Linked DNA regions of Homo sapiens: regions 1 and 2 are each reported to be linked to region 3. The links are microRNA targets in miRTarBase. Many come from high-throughput screens and were not tested one by one. Region 3 holds a microRNA gene; each other region holds the end of a gene's coding sequence.
Evidence for each region. The annotated mature microRNA hsa-miR-515-5p reads UUCUCCAAAAGAAAGCACUUUCUG and lies in region 3 at 2,169-2,192, opposite strand. An mRNA with a match to its seed (bases 2 to 7 or 8) in the 3' UTR can be bound and repressed. Matches are read on the target gene's strand: a 7mer-m8 pairs with bases 2 to 8, a 7mer-A1 pairs with bases 2 to 7 and ends in A, and an 8mer does both.

Region 1: miRTarBase lists ZNF107 as a target of hsa-miR-515-5p. Seed matches in the 3' UTR shown: 7mer-A1 at 2,723-2,729 and 8mer at 1,374-1,381.
Region 2: miRTarBase lists SLC24A2 as a target of hsa-miR-515-5p. Seed matches in the 3' UTR shown: 7mer-A1 at 1,768-1,774.

Annotation. Positions count from the first base shown.
Region 1 is chr7:64,708,317-64,711,675 of GRCh38, reverse strand. It overlaps ZNF107 (zinc finger protein 107), which reads right to left. Exons shown (of 4, transcript NM_001282359.2): 4 at 99-3,359. The coding sequence ends at 3,020. Among named protein-coding and RNA genes, the nearest start is that of MIR6839, 31 kb to the right of the region's middle.
Region 2 is chr9:19,513,673-19,516,672 of GRCh38, forward strand. It overlaps SLC24A2 (solute carrier family 24 member 2), which reads right to left. Exons shown (of 11, transcript NM_020344.4): 11 at 1-2,730. The coding sequence ends at 2,481. All of the region lies in intron 4 of LOC105375988 (a long non-coding RNA gene), which reads left to right. Among named protein-coding and RNA genes, the nearest start is that of MAP1LC3BP1, 52 kb to the left of the region's middle.
Region 3 is chr19:53,677,849-53,681,207 of GRCh38, reverse strand. It overlaps MIR515-1 (microRNA 515-1), which reads right to left and starts at 2,205; the gene lies at 2,123-2,205. It overlaps MIR519E (microRNA 519e), which reads right to left and starts at 1,268; the gene lies at 1,185-1,268. All of the region lies in intron 2 of LOC107985342 (a long non-coding RNA gene), which reads right to left. RefSeq lists an enhancer at 3,013-3,359.

The DNA of each region.
Region 1 (3,359 bases), not on the chromosome of region 3:
AGTAATATATGTGTATAGTTAAGTGTATGTAAATCAAAACTAAAATGCTGTATGTTTGCAGGCAGAGAGGTCACATGTTCAAAGAAAAATATATAACATTTTTTAAATGTTTATTCAGAACTCAGAATTTTCTCATGGTTTATTTATACTTGTATATAATTTTTATTATAACCATAAAATGACCCTGTAGTAACGACTGTACATTCTAAAGTATCTAAAAGTGCAGAATTGGTTTGTAATACAAAGGAGAAATGCTGGAGTTGATGGATACATCTTTTGCCCTGATGTGATTAATACATAAAATTATATGCCTGTATCAAAATATGCCATACATGGCATAAAGATATACACATACTATGTATCCACAAAAATTAAGAGAAATAAGTTTAAATTTTAAAAAGAATAAAAATCTAACCTATGGGAACAATATTCTTTATTAGCAGTTTAAAGTCACTAGCAAAAATAATTATTAGAGATGTTAGCCCATTATGTTATCAAGTAGTATACTGTTACCCTCTTTTACCTAAACCCTTGAGTAATGTGGGATAGGTAAAGTCAGTGGCATGAAAACACTTCATTGAATGCACAATAGTTTTAACATGTTAAAAAAAGTTTAATTAAAAAACTAAGTTCACGCATAATCCAAAAATTTTTAAACACATTGCATTTTATTACATAAAAGTACAAATAGTAAAATGATATACTACTAATTCACTTTAATTTTAACTAAGATTAAAAATGGTTTTCTCTTACTATAATGCAGAAGAATATTGCTCTGAAAACCTACTTCATGGATCACTCAATATTATAAGTTAAACACAAACAGCCTCTTCACTCAGGTTTTCATCATGCATCTTACATTTTAATGTCCTTATTCTTTCATAGAAAGTGTCATAAATAATACCGACCTAACAGAAATGATTTCTCATATCTTTGATGCATGAAAAATTAATCACATGCTTTCACATGTGAATACAATAGGAATGAAGAGCATGAATTTGAGTTGAATTACATCATTTGCTTTTCAAAAACTAATTTTTCAAGAAAAAATATAATTTGAATGTAATTATACATCTACAAAAAAATTCTACTTCTTTTAAAGTTATATACACATTATTTACCTACCAACTTTAGTTTTAAATTATTTTCTATACTCAGCATTCTGATTCTATACTCAGCAATGTCTGAAGTGTCAGTACCTTAGATATTTCTACTGTGAATTCTCTGATATTTATATAGACTTAATTTTGGATTAAATTATTTTTATATTTACTTCACTTGCAAAAATATATTTTAGTATGAGGCCTCTGGTATTTTCTAAGCTGTAGTTTTTTAAAAAATGTTTTCACAAATGCATTACATTTACAGTGCTTTTCTCCAATATAAATTTTCTGGTGTTGAACAACATTTGAGCAACTGCTTCATGGTTTTCCTCTAGTGCAAAATGGGTACAAAAGTATCTGTGATACAAGTAAAGGTACTACAACCCTCTTCGTATTTGTATTGTTTGTCCTCACAATGAATACTCTTTTTTTGTTTTGTTTTTGAGACGAAGTTTTTGCTCTTGTTGCTTTGGCTGGAGTGTAGTGGTGTGATTTCAGCTCACTGCAATCTTCGCCTCCCAGGTTTGAGCAATTCTCCTGCTTCAGCCTCCCAATTAGCTGGGATTACAGGGGCCTGCCACCACACGCAGCTAATTTTTGTAAAATTTTTAATAGAGATGGGGTTTTGCTATGTTGGCCAGGCTGGTCTCAGACTCCTGCCCTCAGGTGATCCACCCACCTTGGCCTCCCAAAGTGCTGGCATTACAGATGTGAGCCAGCACAACTGGCTCCTCTTCTTCACTTTAAAGGCTTATATTTTCTGAAAGATCTCTTGACAAAAATTGCATTTATAATGCTTTTATTACGTACTAACTCTCTAATGTTGAGTAAAATCTGAGCAGATAATAATGGCTTTTCCACATTCCTTGTATTTGTACAATCTTTCTGAAGTATAAATGCTTTCCTGTGCAATAAGGGGTGAGCATTTATTAAAAGTGTTGCCACATTTTTTACACTTCCAGGAGTTTTCTTCAGTATGGATTCTTACCTACAATCAAGTGTGACAACCATTTAAAGGCTTTGTGATATTTTTCACATTTCTAGGATTTTTCACCAGTATGATTTATGTTAGAAAGTTCGAGGTGTTGTCAAAATTATTGTCACATCATTCAGGTTTGTAAAGTTTTCAGTATTATCTTATGTTTAGTGAGGTTTGAGGATTGGTTTAAAGTATTGCCACATTATTCACATTTGCAGGGTTTCTCTCAAAGTATAAACTGTCTTATATGTAGCAAGGTGTGAGGACCAGTTAAAGGCATTGCCACGTTTTTTACATTTGTAGGGTTTCTTTCCAGTATAAATACTCTTACATGTAGTAAGAGTTGAGAATCAGTTAAAAGCTTTGCCACAGACTTCACATTTGTAGGGTTTCTTTCCAGTATGAATTTTCTTATCTACAGTTAAGGGTTAAGGAAGGTTAAAAGCTTTGCCACATTCTTCACAATTGTAGGCTTTCTCTCCAGTATGAATTTCTGTATAGTAAGGTATGAGGATTGGTTAAAAGCTTTGCCACATTCTTCACAACTATAGAGTTCCTCTCCAGTATAAATTATCTTATGTGTAGAAAGGTGTGAGGACTGATTAAAGGCATTGCCACATTCTTCTCATTTGTATGGCTTTTCTCCAGTATGAATTACCTTATGTTTAGTAAAAGTTGAGGATCAGTTAAAGGATTTGCCACATTTTTCACATTTGTAGGATTCTCTCCAGTACGAATTTTCTCAACTTTCAGTAAGGTTTGAAGATTAGTTAAAAGCTGTGCCACATTCTTTACATTGTAAGGTTTCTCACCAGTATAAAATACCTCGTGTGTGCAGAAAAAGTTGAAGACTTGTTAAAGGCTTTAACACATTCTTCACATTTGTAGTTTCTCTCCAGTATGAATTTTCCTATGTGTAGTAAGCTTGTAGGATCAATTAAGTTTTGCCATACTCACATTTGTAGGGTTTCTCTCCAGTATGAATTTTCTTATGTGTAGTAAGATTTGAGGATAGGTTGAAAGCTCTGCCATAATCTCCACATTTGTAGGGTTTCTCTCCAGTATGAATTATCTTATGTATATTAAGAGATGAGAACTGGTTAAAGGATTTGCCACATTCTTCACATTTGTAGGGTTTCTCTGAAGTATGAATTTTCTTATGTGTAGTAAGGTTTGAGGATTGGTTAAAAGCTTTGCCACATTCTTCACATTTATAGGGTTTCTCTCCAGTATGAATTTTCTTATGTGCAGTAAGGGTTGAGGATAGGTTAAAAGCT
Region 2 (3,000 bases), not on the chromosome of region 3:
GCATCAGGTCTCCTTCAACTTCTGTTTTACATGGTCTGTTTGCAGTTGAGTCAGTCACCTATTTAAACCTTATTTCAAACAACGCACCAGTCAATAATATAAAATTCACACAATAACCAACTTGGTTGCCCTTCAAGAAATACACAGGGAAAACAACTGGAGTTTTTAAACGTAAAGTTCACTTCCTCATTCTTTCACTCTCTAAGGAAGCAGGACAAATTCTTGCCCCAGTACAAAGTCCTGACCTTGATGAATGAGATTCATTCCCATTAGGTGGCAGGTTCCACTCAGCGCCTCTATTGGATGGTGTTTCAATGTCTTGGAAGGCATTGTCCCACATCTGAAGACCCCAATCTGCCGAGTTGGAGAGACTTGAAAGCCAGCCTCCGACTGGCAGCCATCTTGATTTCTTGTTTTCCCAGGGGGCCTCGGGTTTGAAGTGCTTTTTACTTCTGGGTGAAGAGGAATGATGGGCATTTCCTGTTATTGCCATGCTCTGTGGGGTGAGCTGAGGTTTTCTGGAAGGAATACTGAGCTTGATCTGGGGCTGTCAGGTTACCTTTCCTCTTATTCTGCTGTGAGTTCTGCATCCTGTCCTCTTATGTTAAGAGGTATGTGCTCACAACAAAATCATAGCAGGCGTCAATGACAGAATAGATTGGAGATAGGAACACATATGGTGAAATTTCCCATATGCCATATGTACCAACTTAGACGTAGGATGGGTACAGAATAATGAACCATCCTTGATTCAATTTTTCAACTGATTTTAAGGAAAGCATGACTTGGAGAAAAGAAAAGTGCTCTACATAGTTTTCCATTGATTCAGTTTGCCTATTTTTTCCCCCTTGCTGGCTTTATTTTCGACTGACATAGATCTGAGAAAACACACAAGGTGTCATACAGAACTTGGGGGCGTGGAATATTTTAATTTCATGCATTCAATGTAATGTTGAGCAAAATCAAGAAATCAAATTGTTGGAGTGAATAGCTTGAAACCAGTATAAGGAAGCTGTCAAATACCGTGTACTCTAAAACTTAGACAGAATCCCAGATAAGGTCTTGATGGAAGAAGAGACATAGATGTTACAAGAACTTTAACCAAAGCCTGGTCCTGGTACCACTCGACCTGGCACTCAGAAACCTTCCTGGGGTGCACTGAGTGTGCAAATGCCTTTCCAAGCATCGCTAAGTTGCCTCAACCCAAGCAGTGCTGATCAGAGTTAAGTTAGTGCTATTGGGAATAATGATTTCTTCAGACACTAAAGCCCTTTATGACTACACTGGAAAACGTTTTAAAGAACTATGCCCTTACATCCCATTAGGTGGCAAGGCCCACTAAGCACCTTTACTGGATGACTTCTTATTGCACATCTAGGCTCTCTTGGCAGCCCTTAGCATCAAAATATATCTACATGACAATCACAGCTAAACTTACCCCTCTTCTTTTGATGATAATGGGACATGCGCTGGAAAAATACAGGTTCAGTTTATATAGTCTTGCTGTCCTAGAAAAAGCACTAATTTGGTTTGTAGTCATATTTTCTACTTGCATGCTGGGACAATATAAGAACAAAACAAAACAACCCAACCCTGGTTACCTCCCCACTTCCCCAAACCAAGCCACCCAGCCTGGGTTTTTACCTCTTTCTGTCCTAAGTACCCTGAGTTTCTTGGTCAGGGTACTCTGGTGGAGGTGGGCAGATAGTCTCTCTGTTTGGCTTGTAGGAATGTTTTGGAAGGCTCAACTCAGGGCCCCTACAGACCTTCTCCACTAAGCCCTCCTCCCTGCAAGCTATTTCCCTAAACCATCTACCTTACTAGGCAGGATCACAGCAAGTCCAAGGTAGGCTGAAGGTCACAGCAATGCTACCTTTGTCTTGTTGGTTCCATTAGTTCACCTCTTGTACTTAAGAGGTAAAGCCCAGACTGCAAGTTGATGCCCCTCTTCAAATAAGTACTATAAATATACTAGAGCTATCCCTGAAAAGATGCATTTGTACTTTTATATATATCTGATTTTATATATATATATATAATTTTTCTTTGTCTTTATTTACAGGTATGTACTAATCTATAGGTATGCAAGGAGAGGTATAGTACAGGAACAGGCAGGATTTGTGTGTTCATGTGCGTATATTTATAATATGTGTATTTATAGATATATATAGCCTGTGTCCTTGTTTGCATCGACTGTACCTCCGACCAGCGAGGTGTACTTGTCAGTGGTGAATAGGGAGAAGCCCTGTATTGACGGTTCTCTTTGTCTTTTACATGAAGTCATTTCAGTAGGCAGGGTGGAAGCAGCCTGTGAAGTGAATGGGCCCAGTGTGAATCCATCTCTCCTCAAATTCACCAAGGAGGGACACTTGGCACCCAGGGCTGTGTGCCAGCTGCCTCTTCTCAAGAGGTCAAGGAGCCCAGAGCCCAGAGTGTGGAGGGACCATTCATGCTGCTGGTGCAAGATATGGCTTTTCCTGCTAGATGGAGACGGGGCATGTAAGAATTCTGTCTTCTAGGAGAACGCTCACCACCAGGAACACAAAGTAGAGGCCAAACATGATGAAGCCCAGGATTTTGTTCATTCGCCACTTGCAGAGGGCGATAGAGAGGATGACGAAGAGCAGCATGATGAAGAGAAGGACGATGGCACAGAAAAGGCCATTGCTGCTGACAGCCACTGGCTGGAATCTGTGAATGACGGTGTACAGGAGCCAGGGCAGTGGGAGCCTGTGCAGAAGTGAAGCAGGGCAGAGGGGAGTGGGAAGACAAGGGAGTAGTCAGACACGTTGAAGAAGGCAAATATAACCTATTATTACCTTCTCAGGAACTCTAAACTGAAAAGGGTGTCTTGTTAGGTTCACTATGACTCGGGCATGGTTGGCCCAGGAAACCACTTTATAAGGAAATAAGACTTTAAAAACCTTTATGTCCTGACTGAATTCAGAACAGGGAGAACAGTTAGACAACATCAAAGACATGACTGCTGTGGGTGATTTC
Region 3 (3,359 bases):
GCACCTGTAGACAAGTACTCAGGAGGCTGAGGTGGCAGGTGGAGGTTGCAGTAAGTCGACATGGCACCACTGCACTCCAGCCTGGGTGATAAAGCTAGACCTTGTCTCAAAACAAAACAAACAAACAAACAAGAAAAACACAGAAAGAAACAAGTAAATAAATACCCAAAGTGATACAAGAGTATTCTCCGTGTGTAGAACAGGGTTTGGTGTACATATGACTACATTATATACATGATAAGACTATATGATTAAATATACATCATATATTGTTGAGACCCTGTCTATGAAAAAAAAAAAAAAGAATATACTGTTTGCTCACATTAAAAATAACTCCTCACCGGGTGCGGTGGCTCATGCCTGTAATCCCAGCAGTTTGGGAGGCCGAGGCAGGTGGATTAGTTGAGGTCAGGAGTTTGAGACCAGCCGGACCAACATGGCAAAACCCCGATTCTACCAAAAGGACAAAAATTAGCCGGGGTGGCGGCATGCACCTGAAATCCCAGCTACTCAGGAGGCTGAGGCAGGAGAATCGCTTGAACCCGGAAGGCGTAGGTTGCAGTGAGCCGAGATCATGCCACTGCACTCCAGCCTGGGCGACAAGAATGAGACTCCATCTCAAACAAACAAACAAACAAACAAACAAAATTCCTACACACAAGTGCTTGCTTTGGCAGCACAAAAAAATACAAATAATAATTAAAAAAAAAAAAAAAAACACCCTGCAGTCCGAGCAGGGTGGCTCATGCCTGTAATCCCACCACTTTGGAAAGCAGAGGCGGGCAGATCACCTGAGGTCAGGAGTTCAAGACTAACCTGGCCAATGTGGTGAAACTCCATCTCTGCTAAAAATACAAAAATTAGCCAGGCGTGGTGGCACGTGCCTATAATACCAGCTACTTGGGAGGCCGAGGTTGCAGTGAGCAGAGAATGTGTCACTGCCTGCCCGCCTGGCCCACATAGTGAGACTCTGTCTCAAGAACAAAAACAACAAAAAAAGTAGGGGGGACCAACTAGCCTAAGAGGTCTAGGTTGGAAGCGCCACCGCACTCCTGCCCGGGCAACAGAAACCCTGTGTTGCAAAAAAACTAAACAAAAACAGAACCCCAACATCATGCAAGTCTGATGATAAGCACGCTCTGCAAATGCGTTACCAAGATCAGCATCAACTTCAACGTGGTTTTTCTCAAACAGTAACACTCTAAAAGGAGGCACTTTGTTTTCTTTCAAACAGAAAGTGCTCCCTTTTGGAGAATGACTGCATGAGATCTTCTCGCTCCAAAACTCTGGGTTTTTGTTGGAATTTTCCTTACCAGGTTAAAATGGACACAAAAATAAAGATGCATTCATTGTCCCTGTTTGCATGTTTTCTGGAATCCAGAACATAAACCCCTAAAAGGACCATCTCCAGTTCCTTGCTTCAAAGGCTCAGCAGGTTAGCCTTGTTCACGAAGGGGCAACCCTCCTGAGTATTGTCTCCAAAGAGAAAAAGCAAAGCCTACCACACATACCTTATATTTAACCAAGAGAATTGGGCTGGATTTCTAGAGAACAGCAATGGATTTTGAGCCATGTGTTCACTTGAGTTCCAGCACAGGGACACACAGTCCCGATGGGAGCAACCAAAATGGAATCTAAGATGATATTTAAGAATATACGTTGTGGGCCAGGCACAGTGGCTCATGCCTGTAATCCCAGCACTTTGCGAGGCCGAGGCAGGTGGATCACCTAAGGTCAGGAGTTCAAGACTAATCTGGCCATCATGATGAAACTCCGTCTCTGCTAAAAATACAAAAATTAGCCAGGCGTGGTGGCATGTGCCTGTAATACCAGCTACTCGGGAGGCAGAGGTTGCAGTGAGCAGAGAACATACCACTGCACTCCAGCCTGGGCCACAGAGAGAGACTGTCTCAAGAGAAAAAAAAGGGGGAGGGGGTGGGGGCAGGGACCAACTGAGCCCAAGAGGTCTAGGTTGGAAGTGTCACCGCACTCCAGCCTGGGCAAGAGACCCTGTGTTGCAAAAAAACTAAACAAAAACAGAACCCCAACATCATGCAAGTCTGATGATAAGCACGCTCTGCAAATGTGTTACCAAGATCAGCATCAACTTCAACGTGGTTTTTCTCAAACAGTAACGCTCCAAAAGAAGGCACTCTGCTTTCAGACAACAGAAAGTGCTTTCTTTTGGAGAATGACTGCATGAGATCTTCTCACTCCAAAACTCTGGGTTTTTTGTTGGAATTTACCTTACCAGATTAAAATGAACACAAAAATAAAGATGCATTCATTGGCCAGGCGCGGTGGCTCACGCCTGGAATCCCAACACTTTGGGAGGCTGGTCAAGAGACCACGACCATCCTGGCCAACATGGTGAAACTCCGTCTCTACTAAAAATACAACCATTTGCCGCCTGTGGTGGCATGTACCTGTAGTCCCAGCTACTCGGGAGGCTGAGGCAGGGGAATTACTTGAACCAGGAGGCAGAAGTTGCAGTGAGCCGAGATCGTGCCACTGCACTCCAGACTGGCAAGAGTAAGACTCCATCTCAAAAAAAAATAAAAATAAAAATAAAAAAGGTGCATTCATTGCCCCTGTTTGCATGTTTTATGGAATCCAGAACATAAACCCCTGAAAGGACCATCTCCAGTTCCTTGCTTCAAAGGCTTAGCAGGTTAGCCTTGTTCATCAAGGGGCAATCCTCCTGAGTTTTGTCCCCAAAGAGAAAAAGCAATGCCTACCACACATACCTTATCTTTAACCAAGAGAATTGGGCTGGATTTCTAAGGATGTTGAGCCAGTGTTCACTTGAGTTCCAGCACAGAAACACACAGTCCTGATGGGAACATCCAAAATGGAATCTAAGATAATGTTTAAGAATATACATTGTTGTACACACAAATACCCTCCAGGACAGACCACAGGCTAGGCCGTAAAAGCTCCTCAGTAAGATTTGACAGAGCTGGGGGGAAAAAAAGAATGTACATTGTCACACACACGAACATTCTTCAGGATAGACCACAGGCTAGGCTGTAAAACCTCAATAATTTTTTTTCTTGGAGACTAAGTTAGGAAAAACAAATGCCCACACCTAAACAACCAATCATTTCTAGTTCAAGTACATCTCAAGTATACTGTTGACCTGAAATAGAAAGTTAACCGGGTTTCCCTGCTCTGGGAAGCCCCCTTTGGTAATTCAGTTAAGGGTCTCCTTTGGAAGGTAATGGGTAGGAACATGGAGATGTCAGCCAAGGGAAGTGACTCTCAGGGATTTCTATGGATTATGCAGATGCCCTGCCAGATCCCAAACTTCCCCAAAAGATCCTAAGTCCAGGCAGGAAGGACCACTGGGGTCCAGAAAC